2 separate regions of the Homo sapiens genome follow, and region 1 is linked to region 2. Evidence: fine-mapped expression QTL. Tissue or cell type: whole blood. Region 2 holds a variant in brackets; the other region holds the start of a gene. All regions are shown on one strand. Distances are from middle to middle.

Region 1 (4,245 bases), 24 kb before region 2:
ATATGCCAGTCTCATCACCCTTGCCGTATTCCCTTCCTTAGGAGTAAGCCACTAGATCCAGCCCACGTCCAGGGGAGTGGATTACACAGGGCGTGGATGCCAGGAGCTGGGGATCGCTGAGGGCCATTTAGAAGTTACCTATTCCAGAGAGCATTTGTTCTGTGGGCCATAAGGCATATATCTTAGAGAACCCTCCCATGCTTGGATGTAGCAGAAATAGTGGGGCAGGTTGTATAGCTTAGAATCAGAAAAATGGGGAAGTAGGTGCGTTATACCCTGGAATTATTTTAGGTTGGTCCATTAGAAGATATGTGAATAATTTCTGGTCTTCTTAGCAAGAGGTGAAATAGCATTTTGCCTTTATCTGGCCCCAGCAGGGAAAGTCAAGAGAAAGTCCTTTATTACCCCCTTCAAAAATAAAGATGACCAAGTTACCTTATAGTGAAATGGTACTTCTTGAGACCAGATCTACCTACTGGTTTCTGGGAATGTAACAGTTTGGGGCTGCAGAGTCTAGGAAGTGAAAAGGAACATAGGGTAGTGAATCTTTAGATGATGGCTGGTGAGTTGTTGGTGAAATCAGGAGACACCCTTTTATTGTTAGATTTTGTTACCCAAGCATTCATAGGGAAGTCTTACAAACTGCCTATTAACTTCCAGAATGCCTGAGGCTGGGTAAGTAACCAGTGACTAAATGACTATTTCATTCACATGATCATTACATGATATTGCTGAAGAAAGTAATTTTACCTTTTTCAAATGCCTGAGAAATTTTGCCAACTAAAATGCCTAACTTTGAAAAGCCATATTCCCCTTAAAAAATGAATTCAGGAAGACACACACTGCCTCAGAATGAGCTGTCTTCTCAACATCCCAATCTTCCTCCTCATGCCTTTGTCATTGGCAATGTGCATAAGGCTGTCTGCATTCTCTTTCTGAATTCAGGGAATACTAGAAGATGATAAGATTCTTGATGTGATATAGAGACTAAATATGTGCTTTAAGCCTGAAAGAAGGAGCCATTTTTCAACAATTGTGGGTAGTCATGACATGAACATATATAGCATGATTATTTTCATCTACACAGCCCAGTATCGGATTGAACCATAGGGGTGTGCCTACATTTGACTTTTTTTTGTTTTTGAGACAGAGTCTCGCTTTGTTGCCCAGGCTGGAGTGCAGCGGTGCAATATCGGCTCACCGCAGCCTCCGCTTCCAAGGTTCAAGCAATCCCCCTGCCTCAGCCTCCCAAGTAGCTGAGATTACAGGAGCACACCACCATGCCCAGCTGATTTTTTCTATCTTTAGTAGAGATGGGGTTTCACTGTGTTGGCTAGGCTGGTCTCGAACTCCTGACCTCAAGATCCGCCTGCCTCAGCCTCCCAAAATGCTGGGATTACAGGTGTGAGCCACCGTGCCTGGCCACATTTAATTAACTGTTTTTGACCTATAAAAGTGGTTGTTTCTTATGCATTAACTAATAATAACGAAACGCTAACAAAACTTTATTTTTTCTCCTTATTGATTTCATAACTCTGTTTTTAGAAAAATGCAGCTAAGTCTTTAAGAATATTGTCATTTATCAATACTTATAATGTATAACTTATAATAGAAGGCAGGCAGTGTCTTACATCTGAAACTCCTTTTCTTTGGCAGCCGTATTAATTTTTACTCTTCTATTTGTATTGTGCTTGCACACCAAACTGATATAGATGGAAAACATATCTTATTTTCACCCTGACATGCATCAAAAATATGAATATATGTCTCTAGTTATATCTGTTAAACTGTTTTTGAAATTTCTCATCCTGGTATTTGAGCTGTAAATGCTCAGCAACAGTCAGTGACTAAAATGCAGCTGGATTGGGTTATGATCTCTGCATTAGGTTGTGTGGGAAGTGCTCTGCTCATGACTGCATACTCTTAAGCTTGGCCTTGGTGCGTATCATCAAGCAGGACTTCTTTTAAAGTGTGCAATCACTGTTTTGCCGATGTCCTTGGTTATATCACTACCATTTCAATGTGATTGATTGAAACAACTTAAATAACGCAACTGCCTTTTCCCTCTGGGAATATGTCTCTCCAAACCATTTTTCTTCAGCCTGATTCCAGGTGTGTTCAGGGGACACACACATACACACAAATCACATGTGACTTAGTTATGATGGAAAATATTCAAGTGAGCTGTTCATTTTTCTTACCTATTAATCCTTCTTCTCCTGTCTCCCGCAGTTATTATGTGGGCATGTGTGGAGATGGAGCTAACGACTGTGGGGTGAGTAGAAATGGCTTTTGCTCAGACAAGCCACTCACTAATATCCCTCTGGAGGACCTCAGGCTCTCCTGGGGTTTGTCTCTTCATCCTTCCACCAGCAACCATTTGATTATTTTGCTGTTTATATCCACCTCTACCTGAGTGTGGGTTGGAAGCGGAGGGGAGTAAAGGGAGATGAGACACTTCCGATGCTTTCTGGAAACTCCTAGAATAATAAACACAAAGGAAGGCTACTTAGACTCCCATATTTCAGGTTCCAAAGATGGAACTTTACAAGTCTATCTGCTTTAAATCTTTCCTGTTATCAGTAATGAAATGATTTCTCAAGGAGGTGATTTCTTCCCCCCTCCCAAGGTCACACAACTGATAAAGACTCAATGAAACGAAGTTTGAAACTGATGATTAAAGTTTTGAATTATATGTAAATTATATTTATTCCTGCCAAACTTTCATTCTCTGGTTAGTTTTTAAGTTTGCTTCACCCAGAACTCTTTCACTCAGTAAAATCCTAGACCAAACTATTTAGTTATTTTATGCTATAGAAAAAGCTAAATAAAATGATTATCAGCAAATTATTTTTCATATGCAGTAGAAGGGCAGTGAATGTTTTATATTCTGAGTTTTAAAGACATGAAGGAAACAAATAGTCTACCTTCAAGATTATGTACTTAAGGAAATATTTCAGTAGCTGATTTATGGGACAAGAAGTGAGGAAGATTTCTTTGTATTTCCAAAGCTTATTAGAGATTTAAGATCTTGGTATTTGTTTTATTTCTCTCTTAAATATTATTTCCAAATTTCTGTGAAAACTGTGTTTATAGCTAGAAATTTTTATAGCTAGAGATGTTTTTTGCTTTATGTTTCATGAGAAAAAGCTAATTTTTAGTCTGTTCTTTCAAATCTAGAATACGTATCCTCTCACATTAATTATGTGGCGTTTAGAATAAAACAAAAAAATCAAATGCAAAAAGGGACATAGTCTCTGCCTCCTAAAGAGTTCATTGTCTGATGAAGAAAGAATCATGAATAAAACTAACCCTAACATAAAGTAGATGGTCCTAAAGTACATAATAGAGATACGAACTAGAGATCAAAGAGGAAGAAGAAAATGTCCTATTATTTATTAAACCTGAATCTAGTATGTACTCATGGCGCCAGGTACTCTGTAGTTCTGTGGAACTACAGATATATAAAAGTTCATTTTATGCCCACACAATTCTTATAGGATCGGCCTAGGAATTCTTTCACCTTTGTTCATGAAGATTCCCACCAGGTACAAGAACTGAAACGGTGAAGGTCCCCAACCAACGTCCATCCAAATTCTGTCATCTTTTTAATTGAGTTTTTGAATGAGGGCTTCCATCTCCTTTTCACATCTATAATCCCCACAGGCAGGGCCCTTGTATGCACATGCCCACATGCACACACGCATGCATGTACACACACCACTTTTCTACCTCTGGGTCATTGTTTAGTTAGTGACTTTGTGGATCAGGGGAGAGAGGGCACTCCAGGTGGAGGGACAGCATTAAACAGAGACCCAAAGATGAAACAGTACAGTGTTATACCTTTATGATGTGAAGAACAGCCTCTTGGTGTTTTAAGAGGTAAAGCCTAACCTGAAAAGTCATGGGTGAGACATGGGCTTATCATTCCAGGCTTTGAAAGCGGCTCATGCAGGCATTTCATTATCAGAGCAGGAAGCATCTGTGGCATCCCCTTTTACCTCTAAAACAACCAACATCCAGTGTGTGCCTCATCTCATCAGGTAAGTCATTTTTTCCTCTTCCAGCCCTACAATCAATGGGCCCATTGTCTGGCTCTGCAGACAGAATTCAACTACAAGCTAAAGTGATAAATGCTGCAACAGAGGAATGGGTGAAGTGCTATTGGAGAACCAATGAAGGGGGCCATTAGTGTTACTCAAGAGTGCTGGTAAAAGCCACAGAAAAGTGACTTTTGCTGAGCCT
Region 2 (4,245 bases):
ATTTACTCTTTGAATTGATAGGAATTCATAAAATATTGTCATCCAGGCCCTTTCAAGGTAGATCACTTGTTCTAAACGGAGTGCCAGACAAAGAACAATCTTGACTTCCTTTTATTTCTGCTTTGTCATAGCAAGAGGTGAACAAAGTATGTCTTGGTAGTTACTGGCTGACATAGTTTGAAAGCTAAAATCCCATGGTAGTGATTAAATTATTTTTTTTTTCACCTAATGGACAAAAATGGAATCAAATGTTTCATAAACACTGGTGATTCTTTTGTAGTGAGTGTTTTCTGGCCAACCAAAGTAATTTTTCAACAAATGTGAGTTTGGAAAGAAACTGGACTGGAAATGCAACTCTGATTCCTGGTTCAATTTTAAGTTTTGAGACCACCACACTGTGGCCCATCACCACCATCAACTATATCACAGTAGCATTCATCTTTTCTAAGGGAAAGCCATTTCGAAAACCCATCTATACAAACTGTAAGTATATAAAGTTTAATTTTTCTTTCTGAATATTTTCCCATTCCCTTTCTCACCCTAGAGTTGTACCTCACTGGTGAAATGATGGGCTGAGGAAGAAACAATTGCATGACTCTAAAATTGTTGTTGAATGCAGTGGTCATCGTTGGTAGAGCCCACATGCAGAAAATCTGCTTGTTTGCAGATAAGCACAGACATTATTTAACTGTCACATGAGTCTTGTCCTATTGTGAGTCATCAAGAATCATTTTAAACACATACATGCATGTGAAGATATTTTATTAAAGGCTTTCTAACCAATTCAAATGCAAATTAACCTCTTTAGCCTTATAACATTGGGCAAGTTACTTTAACCATTCTATGACCTTATTTCCTCATCGGTAGAATGGGAGGGAGTATCCTTAATTTGTTAAGTCCTGAGGGAAGGACTAAACAAAGCATTTTATGGAATGGGCCTAGCACAATTTATGTAAAGGGTCTGGCACTTATAATAGGGGCTCAAAAAATCTTACTTACTTTCCCTGTGTATTAATTTAAGTAGAGTTTTTTAAAAACTCTTCAAAGCTACAATTAAGGTCCTCCCAGCTAAGGCTGGGAGTGGTGGCTCACTCCTGTAATCCCAGCACTTTGGGAGGCTGAGGTGGAAGGATCACTTGAGTTCAGGAGTTTGAGACTAGCCTGGGCAACACAGTGAGACCTTGTCTCTAAAAAAACACTTTTACAAATTAGCTGGGCATGGTGGCTCTTGCCTATAGTCTCAGCTACTTGGGGAGGCTGAGGTGAGAGGATTGCTTGAGCCTGGGAGGTCGAGGCTGCAGTGAGCCAGGATCACACCACTACACTCCAGCCTGGGCAACAGAGCAAGGCTCTGTCTCAAAAAATAATAATAATAATAATAATAATAATCCGCAGGCCAAAGAAGCCAGAGAATATGCCCCATCATTACTGATCAGACTGGGACACTCTTTAGGAGTGAAGTGAGACACTATTAATAATTATGCCAGGCTTAAATAGAGAATGTCAAGGCAAACTAGATACATGATACCTATCCAGATATTGCATGATAAAGATGGTCACCCTATCAAGCAATTGGCTTCAGTATGATAAATAATGCTATAAAAGTATACTTGTGTAAATTACTTTGACTTAGCCTCTTATTTCCTTAGGATAAGAAAATTCAGTTAACTGGTAAAATAGTGTGAAAATGTCAAAGCCTGGAATACACAATTTAAAGTTGCTTTCTAGAAAGTTTGTACTGATTTTCACTTCTATCAGTTGTTTTGGAGAGGGTGTGCTTCTTAATATTATATCCAACAGGAAGTACTAGTTAAAAAACAAAATTTGTGCTGGTCTGATAAGATTTTAGAAAACAGTGTCTTATTTGGTTTTAGTTTGCATTTCTTTGATCACCAGTGAGGAGAAACGTATTTTCATGTCATTAGCAATTTCTTCTTCTGTGAATTGTGTGTTTACATTTTTAAAC[TTA/A]TTTTTTTTCTGTTGGATTGCTGTTTCTCATTTATTTGTATGAGCTGTTTATTTTTTGTGATCTTTTTTCCATTGTCTTTATGCACAGGAAGTTTTTTCTAATTATGAAATAGGATAGATTATCACAATTAGTTTTAAAGTGCTTTTAAAATCTAATGTTAATTTTGGTGTATAGTTTGAGGTAGGGATTAAAACAAGTTGCTCCAACTAGTCAACCGGTTTTTCTAGCAGCTTTTATTGACTATTGAGTTTTTAATATTCAATTATTTTTCCACTGAATATACCACCTTCATCCTATCTTCATATATGTGTTTGTCTGTACATCATTTATATTATGCATTGTTTGTATGTGTATGTCTATATAGTTTCCATACTATCTTTTTTGTTTTTAAATATCAGTCTATTCTTGATTTACCACTATACTTTAAAACTTATAGTTTTATAATAAGTTTTATTTAATAAGTGGCAAGATCAGTGTATCCTCATTATTCCTCATTTTAAAAAATGTATTTATTTCTTTCCTGTTCATTCTTTAAGATAAACTCTAGAATAAATTGCCAGGCTTTTAAAATTTCCCTTTGGGATTTTGATACTTTGGGAAGAATTTACATTGGTATATAACTTAATCTTCCCATTTAGGAACATGTCATGTCTCCCCATTTATTCTTGCTTTTTGTTAAGGTCTCTTAGCAAATATTCGTTGTTTTCTCCATTACAAATCCTGCCTGCACATTTATTTAAGAAACTAATTGGGCCAGACGCGGTGGCTCATGCCTGTAATCCCAGCACTTTGGGAGGCCAAGGCGGGCAGATCACCTGAGGTCAGGAGTTCAATACCAGCCTGGCCAACATGGTGAAACCCCATCTCTGCTAAATAATACAAAAATTAGCTGGGGGTGGTGGTGGGCACCTGTAATCTCAGCTACTTGGGAGGCTGAGGCAGGGAGAATTGCTTGAACCCAGGAGGCGGAGGTTGCAGTGAGCTGAGATCATGCCACTGGACTCCAGCCTTGGCAACAGAGCGAGACTCCGTCTCAAAAAAAAAAAGAAACTAATCCTTTGTATTTTATATTTTTGCTTATATTGTGAATGACTTTCCCATTATATTTATTAACGAATTATTACTAATACACAGGAAATGTATGTTGTTATACATGAATAATTTTTAAAATTATAAATGTATTTTACAAGCAGAATATATTTGTTGCCTAGTACTTTAATTATTATTATTATTGAGATGGAGTCTTGCTCTTTCACCCAGGCTGGAGTGCAGTGGCACCATCTTGGCTCACTGCAACCTTCACCTCCCGGGATCAAGCAATTCTCTGCCTCAGCCTCCCAAGTAGCTGGGATTACAGGTGCCCGCCACCACGCCTGGCTAATTTTTTTGTATTTTTAGTAGAGGCGGGGTTTCACCATCTTGGCCAGGCTGGTCTTGAACTCCTGACCTCGTGATCCACCCGCTTCGGCCTCCCAAAGTGCTGGGATTACAGGGGTGAACCACTGCACCTGGCCTAGTACTTTAATTTTAATAGTAGCTGCAAAGTCCTTTTACATGAATTGAGTGAATTAGAGGTAGTTACCTCACAGTGACTTAAAGCTTGTGGGTAAATTCAAACCCCTATACCAGACATAACTGATAATTTTAAATGTAAAATGTTTTACATTTTAGCATACAGGTATGCTAACAAATGTAATAAGATAACAAACATATACTCTCAGGTTATAAGTCAAAAGCCTCTAGAACTACTATTAAAATATACAAGCAACTTTATTTTGATGTAACAGAAAACTCTTTGCCCTTTTTAACAGCCTTTGACAGAAGCTCAACTTTATGAAAAAGTAGAGGCTTAACTTTTCTGGAAACAAATGTGAACATTACTAACCTTACCTGAAAATAAAGTGTAATGGCTTACACAGGATTTGCTTTCCTAAAGCACCTGCATTAACAGAGCCCTATTCTTTCATGTTTCCTCAGCAGCAGCAACTAACCAAGAAGAGCCAACATTCAAATCTTTATTACATCTTTTCAATCAAAGCTGAATTTTAAAAGATGACCTTATAATTTTGTTTCTACATTGCTCACTTGTGCACAGGCGAGACCTAGTTTTTAGACCATTAGACAGTGATGTGCACCCCACTCAGCCCCAGTTGCTAGTGAGGTCTAGGACTTCATCAGAACAGACCTTTCAGGCGTCCTCTTCTTCCCAGCTTCTGCGTTCCTGGGACTCCAAATCCATGAAGTAAATGAAAAATCCACACAGCTATTTCCTGAAA

Evidence for each region. PIP is the estimated chance that this variant, and not a neighbour inherited with it, causes the effect.
Region 1: it holds the start of ATP13A5-AS1, and the variant in region 2 is fine-mapped to the expression of ATP13A5-AS1 in whole blood (INTERVAL, PIP above 0.99).

The regions. Positions count from the first base shown.
Region 1 is chr3:193,305,357-193,309,601 of GRCh38, reverse strand. It overlaps ATP13A5-AS1 (ATP13A5 antisense RNA 1), which reads right to left and starts at 2,358. Exons shown (of 2, transcript NR_046758.1): 1 at 2,202-2,358. ATP13A5 (ATPase 13A5) reads left to right here. Exons shown (of 30, transcript NM_198505.4): 22 at 2,233-2,275; 23 at 3,934-4,043.
Region 2 is chr3:193,281,152-193,285,396 of GRCh38, reverse strand. ATP13A5 (ATPase 13A5) reads left to right here. Exons shown (of 30, transcript NM_198505.4): 27 at 281-483. It also overlaps a transcript of PLAAT1 not described here. Among named protein-coding and RNA genes, the nearest start is that of ATP13A5-AS1, 24 kb to the left of the region's middle. The variant TTA/A (reference allele first, on the strand shown) is at 1,967.